Homo sapiens: one gene and its partners. The protein of the gene in region 4 purifies or fractionates together with the protein of the main gene of each other region. This does not show direct contact. Each region holds a gene or a part of one and is shown on either strand. Other genes may lie near its edges. The genes, in order: CEP43, ATXN7L2, ZDBF2, TAF12, ATL3, MON2 and NRBF2.

Region 1 (3,500 bases), on a different chromosome or scaffold from region 4:
TGCCACTCTGTATATTACTTTTCTCTAGCACTTACTGGCAAATCCTTTTCCATCATTAACGGCCTCCTAACTGGAAACTCTAAGACCAACCTTCCCCAGCAACCTCAGGATCCTTCTGTAATGTACGCCAGATCAAGATCCTCAGGGCTTCCAGTCTCAAAGAAAAGCCGTCCAGCTCCTCATCTCTGAGTCCACCTCATCCGATCCCCATCTTGCTCTCTCTGCTACCCCCAACTCGCCTCCCTGCTGTCTGTTTCCTCTCCCCAAAGCTCCATCAACCCACGGCAACTCCCTTACCTCCTCTAGCTCTTTGCTCACTGGGCACCTCCAAGTGAGGCCCCCTCCAATTTGGACAGCTGACATGCACCTGCCCTGACCACACACTCGGGCTCCCATCACTGCTCTGCTCTCATCACCCCACACACTGCAGCATAACCCTCATTGCCTGACTCTGTCACCAGAGCATGAGCTTCCTGAGGGCAGGAGTCTTCCCTCTTCTATCATTGCTGCACCCCACCCTGGAACAGCCCTGGCAAGTGGCTGACACTCAATCTACACTTACTTGTTGGAATAAATCATGTCTAGGTTTTTCTAAAATCTGGGATTGTTTTACAACATGAAAGGCATTAACAACGCATAGTCAGATTTATGGATCCAATAATTATAAACCTTCCATAGTTCATTATTTTTTAACTATAAAATGAAAACATTTATCTTATTTTTAAACCCCTAGTCTCATAGCTCAAAAACCATTTACTCACAAACCGTAAGTTTTCTCTGGCTTAGGAATGGGATCATCAAAGAAAGAATCTCCTTCCATATCATCTTCATCTGGACAAAGGCCAGCTTTGTCTTTGCCATCTAAAGTTCTGTTGCTTAGAAAAGATCCAATTTTTGTTTCATGGGACAGTAAGTGAAGGCTGCTTTTGCTCTTGGGTTCTGACAAGGAGACACTTGTATCACTCTGATTGGCCTCATCATTGGCCTTCTAGAAAGAGAGGGAAAGAGAAAAGGCCTCCTTGGTGAGATAAAACTTTAAGATATTTTCAATAATAAAAGAAGTCTCATGAGCATAATCAAACCTGTGTGTGTGCAACCTTTGTGTGTGTGTGTGTGTGTGTGTGTGTGTGTGTGTGTTGGGGCAGCTCTCAGCAGCGTGAACTGCAGAGCAATGCCACAATTCATCACTCCATCCCCAGGATTCCTAACATGGCAAACTTTCAAAGGGGGAAAAATATTAGAGAAATATATTAATACCATTCCTTTCCTCTTTCCCTAAATGGAAATACCTTTAGTATACCTATCCCATTTATAAACACTTTCCCATTGAGAAACAATTTCCCATCTCCTCTTCCATATGTCATTGCTTCATAAGTTATCTTAAATTAATACATTTTCAACTTGAAATCAGGAGAGATCATTATTATTAAAGGAGAAAAGAAAGATTATTTCATATGAATGAACCAAGCATTAAAGTAGTCATCAGTAAAAATAGCAATTTTCTATCCAGTGCTAAACACAACAGGCATCAAGGTGAAAGGCGCTGCCTTCAACCACTCATATTTCTAACATAAACCTTTGCTAATCAAAGTAATTATCTCAATTCTAACTTCCAGGGTAACTTCCTAACCTATACCTCATTTTGATGTCCATGGACATATATACGTGTGTGTGTGTGTGTATTTCTCTATGTATATTAACATCAATGTTATAAAAAAATTCTGAATCATCCTTATCCATGCCCTTGGATACAGAGTGATGTTACCACTTTTCTTTTTTGTTTTCAGGGAGTCCTAACCTTCACAGCCGACTTTCACTCCATTCTTGGTCAGATTTCTTTCTGCCCTTAGACGGGTCTATGTTAATAATAATAATGAAAACAAAAAATAATGCTAGTAATAATAAAAGCAGCTGACATTTATGGAGAACATTCAAATGCTTCACCTTATCTCACTGAATCTTGAAAATGGCCCTAGGATCTGGAGATGGCTTTCTATCTGTGGATATAAATCAGGAAACACAGAGACAGACATTGATGTCACTTGTCAAAGTCTCCAGAGAGTTAAGTGGTCAGGTCAATATCAAAGTCAAAGCCTGCTTCCAGAGGTTAACTCAATATTTATGCTATTAAGCTAAATTATAATGAATTTGTGGGCTTTATGGGTTAAAAATGGCAATTTCCCAAAATTCAGCCTTGCATACTAAAGAGAGCAGTATTGTGTAAAATACCCGTGGAATAATAGAAAAAGCACTCAACTGAAACAAGGAATCTGGAATGTAGTCCAAAATTATTAACTCCATTTTTTTTTCTTTTTTTTTTTTTTCTTTTTTAAGAAACAGGCTCTCACTATGTCATCCAGGCTGGTCTTAAAACTCCTGGGCTCAAGCAGTCCTCCTTGCCTCAGTCTCCCAAGTAGCTGGGTTTATGGGATTACAAGCACAAACTACACCCAGTCGTATAATCTTTTTTTTTTTTTTTTTTTTTTTTGAGACAGAGTCTCGCTCTGTCACTCAGGCTGGAGTGCAGTGGGGCAATCTGGGCTAACTGCAACCTCCGCCTCCCAGATTCAAGCGATTCTCCTGCCTCAGCCTCCTGAGTAGCTGGGATTTCAGGCGCGTGCCACCACGCTTGGCTAATTTTTGTATTTTTAGTAGAAACAGGGTTTCAACATGTTGGCCACGCTGGTCTCGAACTTCTGACCTCAAGTGATCCACCCGCCTCGGCCTCCCAAAGTGCTGGGATTACAGGCGTGAGCCGTGAGCCACCATACATGGCCCGTGTAATCTTAAGTAAATTAATTTCCTAGGCATGAGTTTCCTCAAGAATTGAACTAGATTCATATTTTTCAGATCAAATTATATCTAGGAAGGGATGGATGGCTGAGAAAGAATTAAAGAGTAGTAACTACTGAAGCATGGTGACCAAAGTCTGGGTTAGACATTACCGAACAAGACGCTCCTGAAGGATGGTTTCACTTTTCATATGGGTACAGACAGAATGCATTATGCATGTCTTATGATATACGTTTACATCTTTACACCAGGTAGAGGTCTTGACTAGTTGACAGTAGGCAAGATATATGCTGTGCAAATTTTATTGCCTTCTAGAGAGCTACACATTCCATGTTATTAATATAAATTAATGATTATAAAGAGATGTCTGAAAAAATAAATAGCAAGTTATAATTTTAGACAACATATTTTCAAAGGGATGGAAACTTTCAAAAATTTCCTAACAACTTTCTTGACATTTTCCTGGTATTATCAAATATAGAAAAATATTATGTAATTCACAGCAGTTGTAATTTCTGATTTTTACACTGTTTTAATAATGGATTTATGTCTTTTTAAAAGAATATGCATTTGGAAATAAATACCCTGATGTGATATTTAAACATATGTACAATGACACAGCCTGTGGCCACGACAGATTCTCTCCTTCTAAACACTCATGAGAAAGTGCCAAAGAATAACTGGCATGACAGAAACTGAAAAATGTA
Region 2 (3,165 bases), about 81 Mb from region 4:
CAGATGTCCCCTCCTCCTCACTCTCTTCGCTGGAGGCCTGGGTCCCACCCCGGGGCATGGGGAAGGGGAACAGGCCTGGGTCCCCATCACCACCACAGGGGCCTTCATCATCCAATTCACTCTCGGAGGAGGCCCGGGACCTGGAAGGGCCAAAAGGGATGCCAGGGGAATGTGACTGTTGTGGGGTCAGAGTAGGGGCATCCTTGAACCTGCCGAGCTCAAAGAGCAGGGCACCAGGGCAGACACCCTGCAGGGCAATCAGAAGAGGACAGAGGGAAGGGAAGGACAGGAGGGAACGACACAGCTCACAGAGTAAGAGACAGAGAGACTGCTCCCAAGGGATTCTCTCCCCAGCCCCTTCACCTCCCAGCCCCTTCCTCCTCAGGGGATAATCTGCTGCAGATCCGCCTCCTCCAGAAAATCTTCACAGTTAAAACTGTACCCAGCTCTGGTCAGCCCAGTCAACTCGCTCAACCCCCTTCTTGCATCACATATTCCTGTGAGCCTGTCTGTGAGCTGAGCCTGTGTTTCGTGTCTGCCCCTTGTGTGACAGGCAGAGATGCATGTGTGTCTCCTTCAGCAAGTCAGGCTCTCCCTGGGGTCCGGCATAGCCTCTGCACGCGAAGGGGCCAGTGAGTGAATACACATAGGGCTGCCTTGCCCAGGAGTGTGACCCTTTCAGCTCCCCAGTGACAAGTTTCGGTCTGTTGGAGGCAGCTGGGAAAATGTTCATATCCTGAGTGTTGGATCTGGCACACTGCCGAGAGGCTGGGGTGCTGTGGTATGCCTGGTTGGAAACAGGGGAGTCTCCTGCTTCCACACCACTGTCAGGAGCCCCAGGAATACCCCCACACTCAGGGCTGAGGGAGTGCCTCTTCCAGGACACTCCCTGAGCCTGTTTCCAGGGGCCCCTGATGGCTTAGGGGCCAAGTACCCCCAGGTGAGGTAGGGGTTGGATTCTAGACGTACCTGGGCAGTGCACAGTATGGGTAGGTCTGCTTGGCACGAACAGAGAAGGTGCTGCTGGGAGCAGCCACCGCTGCTACAACCTGGACTGAGGAGGGGAGCTCCTGGGAGGGGCGCTCGAGAACTTGCTCCTTGCGCCCTGGGCTCTTCTCCTTGGGAGACTCCCCTTTGCGGGAGTTGGCCTTCAGCTCTGCCACCAGCACGTCAAAGTCCTTGGCCCGGCCCTGGACTTCCCGGCGCTGGTGTACTGAGTGGATCTAGAATACAGCAGAGTGGAGAGCTGGGGAGTAGGTATGAACTGAGAAGGGGTGAGGGACGGCAGGGTGCTTTGGCCCGGGCAAGTTGGGGGGCAGGGAGAGAGGTGGGCATATTTGCAGCTGTGTTCATGTGTCTTTGTTTCATTCCCCCATGGGGCCAAAACCCTCCTTTGGGATGGGGGAATCTGGAAACTCCCTCCTTCCCACTGTTCCCACCTTCTGCCCAGGAGGGGCATACCCATCTCCCCTTCCCTTGGGTGGGCCTAACTGCCCTCCCTTAAGCTGGACCTTCAGTAACATCGACATTCCTCTCTTTGCCCAGGGAAGGAGTGGGCAAGCCCTGTGCTGTCCTCCCTCACCGTGCAGTGGGAAGGGGGTTACCTTGCAGGTCAACAGGCGGGTACAGATCTTTTTGGTCTCTGGATTTATTACCCCACACTGCCTGTTGAGGTCGCACTCCTTCCCTGTGGGGAAAGCACTTCCAATGAACCTCAAGACCATTTCCAGGAGTTTACAGGAGGATTTGGCCGCTTCCTGCCAAGGGCCTGAGAACTGGTACTAAGGCAGAAGAGACTCCAGCCCTCAGCCTGGGGCTGTACCTTCCAGATAAACTTCTGGGCATCAACATCTCCTTGCTGGGTGTGAGAACCATCCCTATCCCAATTTCAGGTGCGCCTTTTGGGACTTCAAGCCCAAAGCAGGGCAACACACATCAAGAAACAAAAGCAGCCATGGGCATCTGGGAGGCCAGAGAAGCCAGCTGTGAGATGTGTCTGGCTGGCGCCCTGGATCTAGGTGAGAAAAGAGTGAGAAAGAACTTCACCTCCTGGGCATGGGCTCCCTCAGCCTTGATCAGGAGACACAGGATGGAGAGAAGCTTCCCAGGAAGCAAGCAGGTCAAGAGGTGACGGGGCTCCTATACCCTACAACCTGTGATGGCCAGGCCCATAAACCTGACCTCCTCCTCATCCAGCCCAAGGACAAAGCAGCCCAAAGGAGTCCCCACTCTACATTCTGGACCCCCAAGACCACAACTACTCACGAGCCATCTTCCGGTGGGTTTTAGGGGGCAGCCTGGTCCCACTGGGCTCCTTTTCAGGAGGGCTGCCTTCAGCCCAGTGACTGGACCCCTCACTGGGGATGATCTCGATGTTCTCTCTGCCAGGAGGTTCTTTAGAAGGGGGAGCCATGGGAGGTTTTCCAGGGGAGTCCTTGGTGAGGCCCCCTGGCTGGCTGAGAAAAGCAGAGGGTGGGGCCACCCTGATTCCATGTCCATCAGGCTTCGGGAGACTGGACATCTTCTCCAGATTCACCACAGGCACGAAAAGGCTACACACAGAGAGAGGGGGTTGGCTGAGGGAGGGGAGGGGAGGCGAGGCCTGGGGCCTGGACTCTAGCCCAGAGCCATCTCTTTCCCAGCCCTGGAATTTGGGTGGGCTCCAGCAGGGGTGTGAAACACGGGAAGAGGAGACCCCATCTTCCCTGGAATATATGGAAGGAAGCTGCAGACAGGACGGCTGCCTCCTGCTGTGAGGAGTATGCCTTGACCCAGGGCTGTCTGTATTGATGTCAGCCCATCCATGGGTCAGGGTCAGGGCCAGTCTTAGAAAGTTTCCAGCCTCTCCTTACCAGAGGTTGTCCTTCTGGGTCTTCTCAGGAGGCTGGTGGCCACGGCTCCGGGACCCCTGGCCCTTCTCCCTGGAGGAGGTTTTCGTGGAACCTGGGGCCCTACAAGCTGGGCCCTGCCCATTCACTACATGGCATTTCTGAGAGCTGGCAGGGGCTGGAGGTGGGGGTGGGGCCCGGCCATAAAGCTTGCTGAGGGGCCCATGTCTTCTTTCTGTCACCAGGAGGTGGAAAGAATAATCAAGGTGAGTGGTATCACCACTTCCTTCCCCAACCTAACCATGTCCATAGACTCACATGAGAGAATCTGAGTTTC
Region 3 (3,500 bases), on a different chromosome or scaffold from region 4:
TTTAAAATATCACGGTAAAGGTGTTAAAGAACTTAAATCAGGTTGCTAGCTCCTGACCACTGTGTTACAACTCTTGGAATTATTTTCTTCCATGTTGACTTCAGAGGTCCATGCTAGTGCTCCTAGCCCCAGGAACAATCTAAATTATGATGCTTTCAAAATCCTGCTACGAAACTCTCCACTGTCCAGGACCCATCACCAGAGTTAGACTGCCTGGTGATTAAAGGGGACAAATGCACAAGGAAACAAATAAATATTCAGTTAAAATTCAACGTTACTGAATAAAGAATATGTGGTACATATACATCATGGAATACTACACAGCCATAAAAAATGAGATCATGTCATTTGCAGCAACATGGATACAGCTGGAGGCCATCATCCTAAGCAAATTTACACAGGAACAGAAAACCAAATACCACATATTCTCACTTTTAAGTGGGAGCTAAACATTAGGTACATGTGGACATAAAGATGGGAATAAAAGGCACTGGGAGACACTGGGTCAGGAGAGACAGGGCAGGGGGAAAGGGCTCGAAAAACTACCTATCAGGTACTATGCTCACTAGCTGGGTGATGGGATCATTTGTACCCCAAACCTCAGCATCACACAACATACCCACGTAACAAGCCTGGACATGTGTCCCCCCGAATCTAAAATAAAAGCTGAAATTACAAAAATAAATACTAAAATCCAACCTTGTCCTCTCTCTGCCAAGGCAAAAAGAAAAAAGCAATGTGAATAGAAAACTTCATTTACATCCTATAAGGTATCCGTTCCTTTAGATTTTTTGAATTGATGTATAACATAAAGTACACAAATCATATGCATACAGCTCAATCAACTATCACAAAGTAGACACATCCTTACCATCTATCCATAAAAAGTTGACAAGCATCCAGAAATCCCTGTAATGCCCCATCCCAATCCCTTCCCTTTTCCCCAAAAGTAACTATTACCTAACTTTTAATACTATAGTTTTGAAATTTTCTGAAATGTATATAAATGGAGTCATATAATATGTATGCTATTGCATTCAGCTTATTTTACTCAATATTATATATGTGATATTCATACATATTGGCTGAATCTGTTCATTTTCTTTTCTGCATATTCATTGTATGAATATGCCATATCTTATTTATTCATTCTACTCTTGATGGACATTTGTGTTGTTTCTAGCTTTTGGCTATTACTAATAATACTATGAAGAACCTTCTTGTATGTGTCTTTTGGTGCCAATGTGCATGCATTTTTGTTGAGTGCATTATTAGGAGTGAAACTTCGGGGTCATAAAATTTGCATATGTTCAGCTTTAGTACTCCCTACCGACCAGTCTTCCAAAGTGGCTGTACAAATTTATATTCCCTACCAGCAGTATTCCTATCTCCTTATCAACACTTGCTATTGTCAGTCTCTTTAATTTTAGCTATTGTAAGGATGTTTATTGTTATATCACTGTGGCCTTAATCTGTAATTTTTGCAATAGCTTTTCATATTTACTAGCCATCTGGATATCCTCTTTTACATTGGGTCTGTTCAAGTCTCTCTGTTTTTCAAATGGATGTTCTGTCTCTTCCTTATGGACTTGTAGAAATTCCCTATTCAGGACACCAGTTCTTTGCTCAATTATATGTGTTTCAAGTACCATCTTCCTCTCTGCAGCTTCTTTTCACTTTCTTAATCATCTTCCATTGTTTAACTTTATTGCAGTCCGGTTTTATCTTTTTTTCTTTGTCAGTGCTTTTTGTGGCCAGAAATCTCTCTTTACCATCAAAGTCATAGAGATTTTCTCCTGTTTCTAGAAGCTTTACTATTTTGGCTACAACATGTAGCCAAATCATAGTCTACTTCTAACTGATTTTTATATGCAGGGTGATTCGGCAATAAAGTTTCATTTTCCTCTCCATATGAATATTCAATTGACCCAGTATCATTTATTGAAGAAAGTCCTGTCCTCACTGCTGTGCAGCACCTTTGTCACAAATCAGACATCCATAAATGTGTCTGTTTCTGGAATTCCTGGTTTTTTTCCATGGTCTTTCTAACTCTGCAGCAAAACTGCACTATTTTAAAGACTAAAGACTAAAGTTTCATAAGTTTTAGTATCTGATAGAGGACATCTATTCACTTTGTTCTTAAGATTATCCTAGTTCTTCTGAGCCTTTTACTTTCCCACATTTATTTTTGGAATTGGCTTTTCATTAAAAAAAAATACTTCTCTGAGATTTTGATTGAAATTACATTGGATAAATATAACAATCTAGGCAGAACTGACATGTTTACAATATTGATTCTTCAATCCATGAACATGAAAATTTCTTTCAAGGTTTATAGTTTCTAGTTTAAAGATCTTACATTTTCTTATGTTTATTCCCTAGATTTTGATGTTCTTTGATGCTATTGTAAATGATTTTTTATCTCATTTTCTGCATGGTATCTGTATATAAAAATACACTTTCTTTTTACATTAGTGTAACAACCTTTTAAAATCACTTATTGATTCTAATGGTTTATCTAGATATCTTTTTAGTTTTTATGTCCACCATCATGTTGTGTATAAATAATAGTTTTATTTCTTCTTATCCAATCTTTATCATTTTTATTTTTCTTTCCTTATTTCTTTGACTAGGACCTCTGACAAAATATTGAATACAGTTGTAATTCAAGCATCAAACCTATTTTCACTTAATGTATTACTGATAGAGTTGTATTTAACTTTTTCAATCTGTTACTCTTGCCTATACAACTATCCCTTTTCCTCTCCTTTCTTGTCTTCTTGTGGACTACGTTTCATCATTTCAATTTTTCCTTTTCTGTTAACTCTGTAGTTAGTTACAGACTTTTCATAGTCTATTTTGGTAAGAGATTACAATGAGCAACCCTGAACTGTCAACGCCTAAAATTACTTGTTACTTTTATTCTCTTTATAAACAATGCAAAGTCCTTAGAAATTAACATCATTTACTCCCCTCCCAATTTATATGCCATTGTTGTTCATCCCACAAGACAGTATTCACTTAGATTGATTGCCTACATATTTACCTTTCCACTGTTCTTCATTACTTCCTGTATCTCTGAGCTTCCATCGGGAATCATTTTCCTTCTGCCTGAAGAACTCCTTTTTAGTTTTTCCTTTAGTGAGAGTCTGCTGGTGACAAATTCCCTTAATTTTTATTTCCTGAAAATAGTTTTATTTCACCTTCCTTATTAAAAGATATACGTATTGAGTAGAGAATTCTAGGTGGCAGTTGTTTTCTTTCTTTTGGCTTCCATTGTTTCTGTTAAATACTTCACTAGATATGGGCCCCATATTACTTCACTGCTTTTACAGTTCTCCAAAGCCTTGAAATACAAGGCTGCAAACATTGTCAACAAAATATTATTAATAGCAAACCAAATCCAGCAACATATAAAAAGGATTATACACCATGACCAAGTGGGATTTATCCCACAGATGCAAAATAAGTTTAACATCTGAAAACCAATCAATCTAACT
Region 4 (3,500 bases):
TCTCAGGAGGCTGATGCAGGAGAATCACTTGAACCCGGGAGGTGGAGGTTGCAGTGAGCCAAGATCATGCCGCTGCACTCCAGCCTGGTCAACAGAGCGAGACTCCGTCTCAAAAAAAAAAAAAAAAAAAAAAAAAAAAAAAAAAGAAGCTAAGGGATAAATCCTCAAGATAGGAGACTGGAATTTTCTCCGGAGATATTGAATGATTCCAGAGAAAAGACTTACAGATACTGACATTTAGGGAATCTTCCATTAGGAAGGTTGACTTGTGGACAAATTACTCTGAAGTAAAGTCTTGTGGTCTGCTAGAGTGAACCGAGACCAGCTCATAAAAGCCAACTGTGTACCTCTTTTCCCAAGTTTGTATTTAGTGATGTCATGTTGGTAGAAATAGTTACACCACAGAAATAATAAAGCACTGCAAATCGGGCATTTTTCTCCAAAGAGCTAGTTGTTAAACATTTACCCATATATTACTGGGCCAAATCCATCAATTATACTTCAAATCAGCTTTTCAGTGAGTGATTCTTTAAGAATGAATAGCCAGGGTCGGGCATAGTGGCTCAGACCTATAATCCCAGCACTGTGGGAGGCTGAGGTGGACAGATCACTTGAGGTCAGAAGTTTGAGACCAGCCTGGCCAACATGGTAAAACTTTGTTACTACTAAAAATACGAAATTAGTCAGGTATGGTGGTGTGCACCTGTAATCCCAGCTACTCGGGAGGCTGAGGTGGAAGAATCACTTGAACCTGGGAGATGGAGTTTGCAGTGAGCCGATATCGCACCACTGCACTCCAGCCTGGGCAGCTGAGCAAGATTCTGTCTCAAAAAAAAAAAAAAAAGAAAAGAAAAAGAAAAACAGTAAGGAAAGTTATATGGACCAGCAGGCGTGATAGCTCATGCCTGTAATCCCAGCACTTTGGGAGGCCGAGGTGGGTGAATCACCTGAGGTCAGGAGTCCGAGACCAGCCTGGCCAACATGGCAAAACCCCATCTCTACTAAAAAATACAAAAATTAGCCAGGTGTGGTGGCACATGCCTATAATCCCAGCTACTTGGGAGGCTGAGGCAGGAGAATCACTTGAACCCCCGGGATGCAGAGGTTGCGGTAAGCTGAGATCCTGCCACTATACTCCAGCCTGGGCAACAGAGCAAGACTGTCTCAAAAAAATAAATAAATAAATAAATAAAAGTTATATGGCACACATTGAGTAGTGTAAAAAATTCTCATCTACCATAATAGGGAATCAACAGAATCTTATAAAATTGGCCAGGCACGGTGACTCACACCTGTAATCCCAGAACTTTGGGAGGCCAAGGCAGGTGGATCACCTAAGGTCAGGAGTTTGAGACCAGCCTGACTGACATGGAGAAACCCCATCTCTACTAAAAATACAAAAATTAGCCAGGTGTGGTGGTGCATGCCTATAATCCCAGCTACTCAGGAGGCTGAGGCAGGAGAATCGCTTGAACCCAGGAGGCGGAGGTTGCGGTGAGCCAAGATCGCGCCATTGCACTCCAGCGTGGGCATCAACAGCGAAACTCCGTCTCAAAAAAAAAAGAATATTATAAAATTAATGGGTCAAAGAGTATCTTTTTAAGTATATTACTTAGAAATATAGAAGAATGTTACAGAAACAGCTAAAATTGTTGAAAGTGATTGCCTGTGAGCAACAGACTATGCCGTTTTTAACAGGCAAAAGTAGCAGCAGTTATTGGGTATAAAGCAAATTCAGATTTGTCTGTGCTCTTATTTTATTTATTTATTGCAGTGGTACAATCTTGGCTTACTGCAACCTCGGCCTTCTGGGTTTAAGAACACTTCAACCTCCCTAGTAGCTGGAACTACAGGTACACACCACCACGCTCAGCTAATTTTTTTTCTTTTTTTTTTTTTGAGATGGAGTCTTGCTCTGTCGCCTAGGCTGGAGTGCAGTGGCATGGTCTCGGCTCACTGCACTCCGCCTCCCAGGTTCACTTCATTCTCCTGCCTCAGCCTCCCGAGTAGCTGGGACTACAGGCGCCCGCCACCATGCCCGGCTAATTTTGTTTTTTGTATTTTTAGTAGAGACGGGGTTTCACTGTGTTAGCCAGGATGGTCTTGATCTCCTGACCTTGTGATCCGCCCACCTCGACCTCCCAAAGTGCTGGGATTACAGGAGTGAGCCACCACACCTGGCACTCAGCTAATTGTTTAATTTTTTGCAGAGACAAGGTCTCATTATATGGCCTAGGCTGGTCTTGAACCTCTGGGTTCCAGCAATCCTCCTGCTTTGGTCTCTCAAAAGGCATGAGCCACTGCATCTGGCCTGTTTGTGCTCTTAACCACTATGCTATACCGGTTCTCAGGGACCAGTTTCTGGGGTACCCAACCCCACCTTACCTCCTCCACATCTTCATCCAACTGCTCATTAGGATCCACTTCTCTTACTAAGTCCTGTAATTTCTTCTTGGTCAATACCTAAAGTTAATTGGAAGAAGACTTTTCAACCAGATATTAAGGAAATGAAACAAATCATTACCCTGTAATGAAGAAAGGCTGTCAAATTGTTGGTTTTAGTTTCCACTTTCCAATGAGTTCACAGTCTGGCCTACCTGACTATGCTGCTGTAAGACTACACTCTCAAGACAGAAGTAACTTAGGGAAAGGTGGAAAGAGCAGTTTGAAGACAGGCCAGCATCCAGCTGTCAGGCAGTATATTTCAGCCTCATGTCTTTTTCTCACTGTGTCTCTTCACATGTAGAAATTTGCAATTCTCTGACCACCACAAATTGTACCATGCCCCTTGCCTTTAGACAAGTTTGTTTTTTTGTTTTGTTTTGTTTTTGAGACAGGGTCTTGCTCTATTGCCCACTGGAGTGCAGTGGCATGATCATGGCTTACTGTAGCCTTGACTGCCAAGCTCTCCCACCTAAGCTTCCCAGCTAGCTGGGACCATAGGCACGTGCCATCATACCTGGCTAATTTTTTTTTTTTTTTTTTTTTTTGAGAGACAGGATCTCGCTATGTTGTGCAGCCTGCTCTTGAACTCCTGGCCTCAAGTGATTCTTCCACCTCAGCCTCCCAAAGTGCTGTACACACTCTTCCTCTCTTCTTCCTTCTTGCTTAGCTCATGGTGCCTCTTTCTGATGCTTTTCCTAGCCCATCCCAGTAAAGGTAACCACTTACTTCCTCCTTTGGCCTCTACTGTATCCTGTGTACCCTTTATCATTGTGCATATTTATATACTTCCCTGTTTCTGACTTAATAGGCTAAAAGCTCCCTGAGGGCAGCCTTCATAAAGGAAATGTCATGTTACATACGTATGCCATTAAAAAGTAATCAAAAGAAAGCCAGGCACAGTGATCTGTGCCTGTAGTCCCAGCTACTCAGCAGGCTGAGGCAGGAGGATCACTTGAGGCCAGGAGTTAGAGACTGCAGTGAGCTATGATTGTGCCACTACACTCCAGCCTGGGGAACACAGGAAGACCTCATGTCTTAAGAAACAAACAAAAAAA
Region 5 (3,500 bases), on a different chromosome or scaffold from region 4:
CCTCATGATCCGCCCGCCTCAGCCTCCCACAGTGCTGGGATTACGGAGTTTCACTCTGTTGCCCAGGTTGGAGTACAATGGCACGATCTTGGCTCACTGCAACCTCCACCTCCCAGGTCCAAGCGATTCTCCTGCCTCAGCCTCCCGAGTAGCTGGGATTACAGGCATGAGCCACCATGCCCGGCTAATTTTTGTATTTTTAGTAGAGACAGGGTTTCACCACGTTGGTCAGACTCGTCTTGAACTCCTGACCTCAGATGATCCACCCACCTCGGCCTCCCAAAGTGCTGGGATTACAGGCCTAAGCCACCATGTCTGGCCTATTTTTTTTTTTTTTTTGAGACAGAGTTTTGCTCGTCACCCAGGCTGGAGTGCAATGGCGCAACCTCGGCTCACCACAACCTCCACCTCCCAGGTTCAAGCGATTCTCCTGCCTCAGCCTCCTGAGTAGCTGGGATTACAGGTGCACACCACCATACCCGGCTAATTTTTGTATTTTTAGTTGAGCAAGACTGTCTAAAAAAAAAAAAAAAAGTTGTTTTCTGTTAATTTTAATATCTGTGTTAGTTCTGAGACAGTTTTGATTGATTTTTCTCCTCATTTGGGTTATATTTTTCTGCTTCTTTTATGTCTGCAAATTTTTGATAGGATGTAGACTTGTGGATTTTCCCTTGTTGGGTGCTGGTTATTTTTGCATTCCTATAAAATATCTAGCTTTATTCTGAGATGTAGTTAAGTAATTTGGAAACTCTGGTTTTTTCTGTTCTTGCTGTTTAGATTTGTTAAATGGAACCAGAGTGTTGTTATTCCTCATTACTGAGGCAAGACTGAGTACTCTTCCTAATCCCACTGCAATCTCCGCCGCCCAGGTTCCAGCAATTCTCCTGCCTCTGCCTCCCAAGTAGCTGAGATTACAGGTGGGCGCCACCACGCCCAGCTAATGTTTGTATTTTTAGTAGCAACAGGGCATCACCATGTTGGCCAGGCTGGTCTCGAACTCCTGACCTCAGGTGATCCGCCCACCCCAGCCTCCCAAAGTGCTGGGAATACAGGCGTGAGCCACCGCATCTGGCCTTTTTTTTTTTTTTTAGATGGAGTTTAGCTCTTGTTGCCCAGGCGGAAGTGCAATGGTGCGATCTCGGCTCACTGCAACCTCCACCTCCCGGGTTCCAGCGATTCTCCCACCTCAGCCTCCCAAGTAGCTGGGATTACAGGCATGACCCATCACACCCAGCTAATTTTTTGTATTTAGTAGAGATGGGTTTTCACCATGTTGGTCAGGCTAGTCTCAAACTCCTGACTTCAGGTGATCCACCCACCTCGGCCTCCCAAAGTGTGAGATTACAGACGTGCGCCACCGCGCCGGCCAAAGAATTTTAAATGAACATCTTGTGGAACAACTTCAAGCAGCAAGAGGCACATGTAATAGGAGTCTCCAAAGGGAGTAACAGACCAAAAAAACTTGAAGAAATAATAACCTTAAAATGTCCAAATTTGATAAACATTATAAATCTGCAGATTCAAGAAGCTCAACAAAACCCACATACAAATAACATGAACTACATCAGCCTGGCGCAGTGGCTCACGCCTATAATCCCAGCACTTTGGGAGGCCAAGGCGGGCAGATCACGAGGTCAGGAGATCGAGACCATCCTGGCTAACACAGTGAAACCCCGTCTCTACTAAAAATACAAAAACTTAGCCGGGCGTGGTGGTAGGCGCCTGTAGTCCCAGCTCCTTGGGAGGCTGAGGCAGGAGAATGGCGTGAACCCGGGAGGCGGAGCTTGCAGTGAGCCGAGATCACGCCACTGCACTCCAGCCTGGGCGACACAGTGAGACTCCGTCTCAAAAAAAAAAAAAGAACTACATCAAAACACATAATAATTTGCTCAAAAACAGTGATAAAATCTTAAAAGCAACCAGACATACCCTATAAATATATATACCTATGTACCCACGAAAATAAAATTTTTTTTAATTTAAAGAAAAAAGCAACCAGACAAAAAAGACAGATTAGGTACAAAAGAACAAAAATAAGAATAACAGTGTATTTCTTGTCAGAAACAATGTCAGCAGACTGGGCACAGTGGCTCATGCTTGTAATCCCAGCACTTTGGGAAACAGAGGCAGGTGAATAACCTGAGGTCAGGAGTGCAAGACCAGCCTGACCAATATGGCGAAACCCCGTCTCTACTAAAAATACAAAAATTAGCCAGGCGTGGTGGTGCGCGCCTGTAGTCCCAGCTACTCAGAAGGCTGAGACAGGAGAATTGCTTGAACCCGGGAGGCAGAGGTTGAAGTGAGCCGAGATCGCACCACTGCACTCCAGCCTGAGCAACAGAGAGACTCCCTCTCAAAAAAAAAAAAAAGAAACAATGTCAGCAAAAAGGCAAAGGGGCAACACCTTTGAAGTACTGAGAAAAATACGTTGGCCTAGAACTCTACACTAAGAGTAAATATTTTCCAAAACAAAGGCAAAATAAAGATTTTTCAGATGTATGAAAGCTAAAAGAATTCAGTACCAACACTCCAGCACTTCAAAATATCAAAGGTGGCCAGGTGTGGTGGCTCACCCCTGTAATCCCAGCACTTTGGGAGGCTGAGACAGGCGGATCACGAGGTCAGGAGTTCCAGACCAGCCTGGCCAACATTGTGAAACCCTGTCTCTACTAAAAATACAAAAATTATCCAGGCATGGTGGTGTGCACCTGTACTCCCAGCTAATGAGGAGGCTGAGGCAGGAGAATTGCTTGAACCTGGGAGGCGGAGACTGTAGTGACCAAGATGGTGCCACTGCACTCCAGCCTGGGCAACAGAGTGAGACTACATCTCAAAAAAAAAAAAAAAAAAAGGACAAACAGGTGTGAAGGCATGCTTATAGGATTGGGCTAAAAACAGAAGTAATGGATGAAAGTCTGTATAAGAAACACATGACTTACCCCTCCCGATCCTTACAAAGAAATCTGTGGAGAGGCTCTATGCCCATAGCTTACAAGGCATAGATGAGACTGGGGCTAAGAAGCCCTACTGATAGCTAGGGGATAGTGAATGCCCACCTTCTGAACAGTGAGATCCCCAATGCCATTTCCCTGCTCAACTCCCAGAACAACAGCCAGGTCTGTGCCACCCATACAGGAGTAAGGAAGTAAAGAACAGAAGTGGTAACACATAAGAGCATCAGCCTCTGGGAAGTGAAAACTGGGTAGAGAGGAGAATAACACACATGACAGCTGCTTTCTGTTAGAAGCCTTACAGTAGTACCTGACCTTTTAAACTATATTCATGCATTTTATTTAAGAATCTTAAAAACAATCAATATGTATTAATTTTAAATCATTCACTTTGATAAAAAGTTGTTTTCACATCTTCCTTCCTTTTATTGAAAAAAAATTTCAGAAAATAACAGTTCATAAAAGACACAAACAAATCAACAGGTATATACCAGTGGAAAACACAATATGAAACTAAAAATGCCATTGGCTTTTTTTTTTTTTTTTTGA
Region 6 (2,576 bases), on a different chromosome or scaffold from region 4:
CCTTGGTTTTATAATTTATTCTTAAATCACTCCAGACCCTGCCATCTCAAATCTAAACTACTCTCCTTGGCTTTCAAGGAATTTTATGAAGGGACCCAATCCTTCACAACCAACCTTGTTTCACACAATACACCAAAATGCACTGTTTTCTATTTCACAGATATGCCTTGCTCACATTATCTTGCCTGAAATCCCTCCGTATATCCTTTGAACTCATCCAAAATCTAGGTAGCCATCAAGACTAACTTTAATTTCTATCTTAACCACTGAGCTTTTTCATTTCTTTAAAAAACTTCCTTCTGACTACTAACAGCACTATTAACCTGAACCACAGAAGACTAGGCTAAGGTTCCTATTTTATGATTTCATTTTAATCTGTACTTGTCTTTTACTGTACTTTACATACTTGTTAAAAGGTCTGTATTCCCTATAAAACTGAAAACTCCATGAGGACAGAGACTAACCCAATGCTTAACGCAAAAACAGGGTCTAAACAGTTGTTAGTGATACACCAGTATTTAATTGTATAGTCTTGTATCCAGTATTATTTTATATATGCGGTTTCCTTGACTAGCTGTAATAAGCACTTGAGAGCGCTCCAAATAGCTTCTGTCATACAGCAAGGACACAGTTATTAGCACACAGTAGATTCTTAACATTCAGTGGTTGTCTGGTGAAAGGCAAAAAATTGGTCCCTATTGTGGGAAGACATGGATTTTCTGGCCATTCTTGAATGATGTGTGCCAAATGTGTTTTACTTCCCTAACCACCTAGTGGTGATGATGCTCCAGGCACAGCGCTTTAGAACACACTACATTTTGAATTCTGTTAAATACCACGATTAACTCCATTTCACAGAGGAGGACACCAAAACAGGTTAATTAACTTGCCCAAGGTCACACATTTAGTAAAATAACAGAGTTGGGATTTGCATCTAAGAAGCCTGGCCCCAGACTCTGGGCTCTTAACCACAATGCTGTTATTTATAACATAACTTCTTAAAACACACAACATATGTTTTAAATAGATAAAATGTTTTAAACCTGGACCAATAATAAAAACCCAATGCAACTTTCAAGGTCATCGTTAAGACAAATCTTTTTTTCACAGTATTTTTAGTTCTTTGTTATGTTCAAGTATATTTGTCCCAGTGCCCATCATAGAAATAGTAATTGCCTCAAGAGTATTTTTAGTTTATTTTATAAGTCTTGGATTTTAATGGACTGTAAAACATGAAACTATTGTACTGTAGTAGAAAGAACTGCTTTTGAAAAAGCAAGACATAGTGATCCACCTGGACTTTAGGTATGTGACTCTAGGCAGCTCACTTCAACCCCCTAATCCTTGACTCTTCTGTAAAATGAAAATAACTTCTTTGCAAGGCTACTTTGAGGATTAAAGGGAATAATATAGGCAAAGCCTTGGCCTGCACATACTAGGTACTCCAGAAATGGTGGTTAAAATTACGCATCAGAAAAATTATTTTAACTATATCTGACTGCAGTACACACTGAGTAACGTACAAATTCTTGTTTTATACTTTCATTACATAACAAAAAAAGGAATTTTAATGCAAATTATTTTCTTTGAGAGGTAGAGAGATAGTCTGGCATTGATATGGACAGGCAGTTTCAAAACAGCTTCACCAAATTAAAAAAAAATGCTCATAAGATTAAGATAATCTAATCTACATCAGGATTTTTACTTGACCTAGCATTTTTACTTAAAGTTCCAAATCTTTCTTTCTAAACTATTGAGAGACACTTCGTGTCTTCTGTTTATTATTTTTTCATTTTATATATTAATGGTTTTAATAAAGCTCTCAAGAACATTTCCCCTTTACTCTATAATTTTTTTTTTCCCAAAGTGATCATCCTAAACATGTGACTCACTACTCGTAAAGTCTTTAAACAGAGTAAGTGATGTGGGGTGTCAATAATGTTTCAGACTTAACGGGGATGAGAAAGCAAACACAAAGTATATTCAAGAAAAAAATGAATCACTGGTCAGATCCAAAGGTAAATTATCAAAGTGGTTATGATTTTAAGTTATAAAGAAACACTAGTGTTGCTGGAACATAATTAAAAACCTGGAATCATGCTTAATGTTAGCTGTAAAACAAATAAACAATCTGTACAATCACAGTTATAACTATATAGCTTTCATGAAAAATCTATCCTAGACTACAAAGAAAATTTGGGTTTGAGGCCAATACAATTTCATGATTATAATACATAACTGATACATCTCAACAACATAAAAATTGTAAGGAGAAAGAGTAACAACAGTGGTATTACTTTCAAGAATTGTGTTGGGAACTAAAAAATAATTTCACAAAATTAGATAAATATATCCAGTCTGACATAAACACCATATGGTAGCTGCCTTAAGAGACAGGAGTTGTATGTTACGTGTTAAATTATGACACAGAGGTAGTAGTAAGAGATGGAAAGCAAATGAAATTTGCACAGTTGGGTCTGAAGCCTAATATTTTCTTTTTCTAGATAAAAATAAAATTGCAATATAGGTATGGAGTATTTTTCTCCATCTAGTAAACATCATAGAAGGAAGCAGTT
Region 7 (3,500 bases), on a different chromosome or scaffold from region 4:
AGACGACAAGGTAATACAACAATGTGGGCCTGGTATGGTAGCTCACACCTGTAATCCTAGCACTTTGAGAGGCCGAGGCAGGTGGACTGCTTGAGCCCGGGAGTTCAAGACCAGCCTAGGCAACATAGTGAAAACCGGTCTCTACCAAAAGAAAAAAAAAAATAGCTGAGCATGGTGGCACATGTCTGTGGTTCCAGCTACTTGAGAGGCTGAGATAGGAGGATCACTTGAGCCCAGGAGGTTGTGGCTGCAGTGAGCCGTTATCATGCCACTGCATTCCAGCCTCTGGGTGACAGAATGAGACCCCATCTCAAAAAAAACAGCAAGGAAATCATAAGGAAGAGAAAATATAGTTCTATACTATAGTTATCAATACCATAAGTTTATGTCAGCTGTTTACAAAACGAATCATCTGTCAGAAATGATGGGCAACCACAGCTGTAGACCTCAATCTAACGTAACCCATCAAGCAATTAAAAAAGAATGTGGGAAGTCCCACAGAATCATATGGATTGCCTAGGAAGTACACAGAGGTGGGACTGCTTTATTGTGAATTTCTTTGAATTACCAGAGAAACATGTTTATGGACTTACTACCCTTTTCTTTTTGAGACAGTATCTTCCTCTGTCCCACAGACTAGAGTGCAGTGGCGTAATCACGGCTCACCGTAGCCTCAACCTCCTGAGCTTCTGATCCTCCTACCAGTCCCTCCTGTAGCTGGGACTACAGGTGTGCACCACTACACCCAGCTAATTTTTCTATTTTTTGTAGAGATGGGGTCTCACTATGTTGCCTATGCTGGTCTCAAGCAGCCCTCCCACCTCGGCCTCACAGAGCGCTGGGATTATAGGCATGAACCTCCGTGCCCAGCCTATTACTTTTTTTTTTTTTGAGATGGAGTCTCACTCTGTCACCCAGGCTGGAGTGCAGTGGCGCAATCTCGGCTCACCACAACCTCTGCCTCCCAGGTTCAAGCGATTCTCCTGCCTCAGCCTCCCGAGTAGCTGGGACTACAGGTGGGCGCCACCATGTCTGGCTAATTTTTGTATTTTTTGTAGACATGAAGTTTCACTATGTTGGCCAGGCTGGTCTCAAACTCCTGACCTCGTGATCTGCCTGCCTCGGCCTCCCAAAGTGCTGGGATTATAGACGTGAGCCTCCGCTCCTGGCCTCAGCCTAGTGCTTTTAATGGCTGTGATTCTACCAAGAACAGTATTTAAAGAGAGACTAGTTTTAATATGTGTAAACTGTAAAAGTTGTTTTAAAAATGAGAAGCACCACCAAGATAGGTTTTCTGTAAAATCTTCAGTTTATAAAAAATGCAATTTAGCTGGGCATGGTGGCTCATGCCTATAATTCCAGCACTTTGGGTGAGTGAGGGAGGAAGATTGCTTGAGCCCAGGAGTTTGAGACCAGCCTGGGCAAGATATCAAGACCCCACCTCTACAAAAAATAAAAGTTAGCTGGATGTGGTGCCGTGTGACTGTATTTCCAGCTACTCAGGAGGCTGAGGTGGCAGGATTGCTGGAGCCCAGGATATTGAGGCTGCAGTGAGCTATGATTGCACCACTCCACTCCAGCCTGGGCAACAGAGCAAAACCCTGTCTCAAAAGTAATTAAGATGAAAATTTTTTTAAAATGCAATTCAGTCTAGACCCAACTATATTGTCAACTTCTTGATGGCAGGTACTTCCATCACTTCTATTGTCTTTTGTAGTACTTAACGAGGGCTATATCGAGTATGTACCAGTACCAGGCACCATTCTAAGCACTGTGATGTTTCAACTAGTTTAATTTTCACAAACTCTTTTGTTTTTGGTGCCATCAAATTTACATAAGCAGACAATAACTTTCATTTTAGAGATGAGAAAACTGAGGCAGATAATTGGGAAAGCCGGGCTTATGTGTCTCATATGTGGTCAAACTGAGATTTGAACGTTGGCAGTCGAGCTCTATAACGAGTTTGCTGTGTGTCTGATAAGAACATAGTAGGAAATGTACTTAAAATACGAAATTTGATTGCTCTGGTGCCAAATAACCTAGAGGAGATGGTGTGTTTTTGTTGAGCTCAGTAATAATCTGAAACTATAATGAGATTTAACTCCTAAATTGGCAGACTGGTTAGAGATTGGACTCTACATGGGGATGTTTTAAGGGAGCTGGGAGAGCCATGAGGACCTGCTCTCACTGTTTGAGAACTTTTTATTTTTTTGGTGTTCAATTAAGAATTTATTCCGTCATCACAGAGTTTGAAGTTTAATTATGGAGCTACATAAATATCCATACTAGAAGAAAGTGATTGAAATCATCAGCGACACACACAGATAGAAAAAAGGTGTTAGAATGAAGTAACCTGAAATAGCATCTCATCCCTGCTTCTTAGAGTGTATCCATAAGCCAGCAACTTTGGCTTTACCTGGGTGGAATCTCAAGCCGTACTCCAAACCTCCTGAATCAGAACCTTTGTTTTTTTTGTTTTTTTTGTTTTTTTTTGAGATGGAGTTTCACTCTTGTTGCCCAGGCTGGAGTGCAATGGCACGATCTCAGCTCACTGCAACCTCTGCCGCCCTGGTCCAAGCAATTCTCCTGCCTCGTCTTCTCAAAGTGCTGGGCTTACAGGTGTGAGCCACCATGCCCGGCCTTTTAGAATCTGTATTTTAACCAGGTGATTTGTATTTTCATTAAAACCTAGAGCCTTATTGCTTATTGATTTAATACCACTTGCTTTAATAGTATCAAAACATGTTCATTAGAGAAATTAGGTTAATCATAACTGCTTGTGCATACTAGCTTTCTTCATCATGTACATTCTTTTCCCAAAATACCTGTATAATTTGTGGGTACTAGAAAATGCTCATGTGTTCAGAATGTATTTTTTGCTCAGTCCAAGTCTCCAGGTTAAAATTCATCCATTATTTTAAGCCCCCAGTCATTTCTTTTCTTTCTTTCTTTCTTTTTTTTTTTTTTTTTTTTGAGGCTGTCTTGCTCTCTTGCCCAGGCTAGAGTGCAGTAGCACGATCTCAGCTCACTGCAACCTCCGCCTTCCAGGTTCAAGCAATTCTTGTACCTCAGCCACCTGAGTAGCTGGGATTACAGGCATGTGCCACCATGCCTGGCTAATTTTTGTACTTTTAGTTGAGATGGTGTTTCACCATATTGGCCAGGCTGGTCTTAAACTCCTGGCCTTGAGTGATCTGCCTGCCTCAGCCTCCCAAAGTGCTGGGATTACAGGCATGAGCCACTGCGCCCAGCCTACCCAGTCATTTCTTGTGACCTATTGTTGTTCCCAGGCATATGTTAAGACTTAGAGGAAAGTTTGATTACTATTTAAAAAATAAAAAGTATCTGAAATCCTGTAATTGAAAGGCACGAATCTTGTCTTTAAGATTGTTGCTTCTTTCCTACAAAAATAGAAGTGGGGAAAAGGCAAACAGCAAGGCATTGCTGGAAGTGCTGTTTTCTACTTTTGTCTTCACCTGTGTTTTATACTGAGTATGATT

The links.
Region 1: the proteins of TAF12 (region 4) and CEP43 purify together in Homo sapiens (co-immunoprecipitation; one large-scale study listed by IntAct). This does not show direct contact.
Region 2: the proteins of TAF12 (region 4) and ATXN7L2 purify together in Homo sapiens (affinity purification with mass spectrometry; one large-scale study listed by BioGRID and IntAct). This does not show direct contact.
Region 3: the proteins of TAF12 (region 4) and ZDBF2 purify together in Homo sapiens (affinity purification with mass spectrometry; one large-scale study listed by BioGRID and IntAct). This does not show direct contact.
Region 5: the proteins of TAF12 (region 4) and ATL3 purify together in Homo sapiens (affinity purification with mass spectrometry, with the first as the bait; one large-scale study listed by BioGRID). This does not show direct contact.
Region 6: the proteins of TAF12 (region 4) and MON2 purify together in Homo sapiens (affinity purification with mass spectrometry; one large-scale study listed by BioGRID and IntAct). This does not show direct contact.
Region 7: the proteins of TAF12 (region 4) and NRBF2 purify together in Homo sapiens (affinity purification with mass spectrometry; one large-scale study listed by BioGRID and IntAct). This does not show direct contact.

The regions. Positions count from the first base shown.
Region 1 is NC_000006.12:167,019,897-167,023,396, reverse strand, and holds part of CEP43 (centrosomal protein 43), read right to left. Parts: intron 989-3,500; coding exon 762-988; intron 1-761. UniProt on the Homo sapiens protein: Required for anchoring microtubules to the centrosomes. Required for ciliation.
Region 2 is NC_000001.11:109,486,905-109,490,069, reverse strand, and holds part of ATXN7L2 (ataxin-7-like protein 2), read right to left. Parts: intron 3,064-3,165; coding exon 2,853-3,063; intron 2,553-2,852; coding exon 2,266-2,552; intron 1,688-2,265; coding exon 1,605-1,687; intron 1,224-1,604; coding exon 970-1,223; intron 788-969; coding exon of another isoform or gene 730-787; exon of another isoform or gene 141-729; coding exon 1-140.
Region 3 is NC_000002.12:206,291,663-206,295,162, reverse strand, and holds part of ZDBF2 (DBF4-type zinc finger-containing protein 2), read right to left. Parts: intron 3,153-3,500; exon of another isoform or gene 3,101-3,152; coding exon of another isoform or gene 3,047-3,100; intron 1-3,046.
Region 4 is NC_000001.11:28,615,568-28,619,067, forward strand, and holds part of TAF12 (transcription initiation factor TFIID subunit 12), read right to left. Parts: intron 2,464-3,500; coding exon 2,386-2,463; intron 1-2,385. UniProt on the Homo sapiens protein: The TFIID basal transcription factor complex plays a major role in the initiation of RNA polymerase II (Pol II)-dependent transcription.
Region 5 is NC_000011.10:63,654,377-63,657,876, forward strand, and holds part of ATL3 (atlastin-3), read right to left. Parts: intron 1-3,500. UniProt on the Homo sapiens protein: Atlastin-3 (ATL3) is a membrane-anchored GTPase that mediates the GTP-dependent fusion of endoplasmic reticulum (ER) membranes, maintaining the continuous ER network. It facilitates the formation of three-way junctions where ER tubules intersect.
Region 6 is NC_000012.12:62,598,401-62,600,976, reverse strand, and holds the end of MON2 (protein MON2 homolog), read right to left. Parts: 3' UTR 501-2,576; downstream 1-500. UniProt on the Homo sapiens protein: Plays a role in regulating membrane trafficking of cargo proteins. Together with ATP9A and DOP1B, regulates SNX3 retromer-mediated endosomal sorting of WLS away from lysosomal degradation.
Region 7 is NC_000010.11:63,139,828-63,143,327, forward strand, and holds part of NRBF2 (nuclear receptor-binding factor 2), read left to right. Parts: intron 1-3,500. UniProt on the Homo sapiens protein: May modulate transcriptional activation by target nuclear receptors. Can act as transcriptional activator (in vitro). Involved in starvation-induced autophagy probably by its association with PI3K complex I (PI3KC3-C1).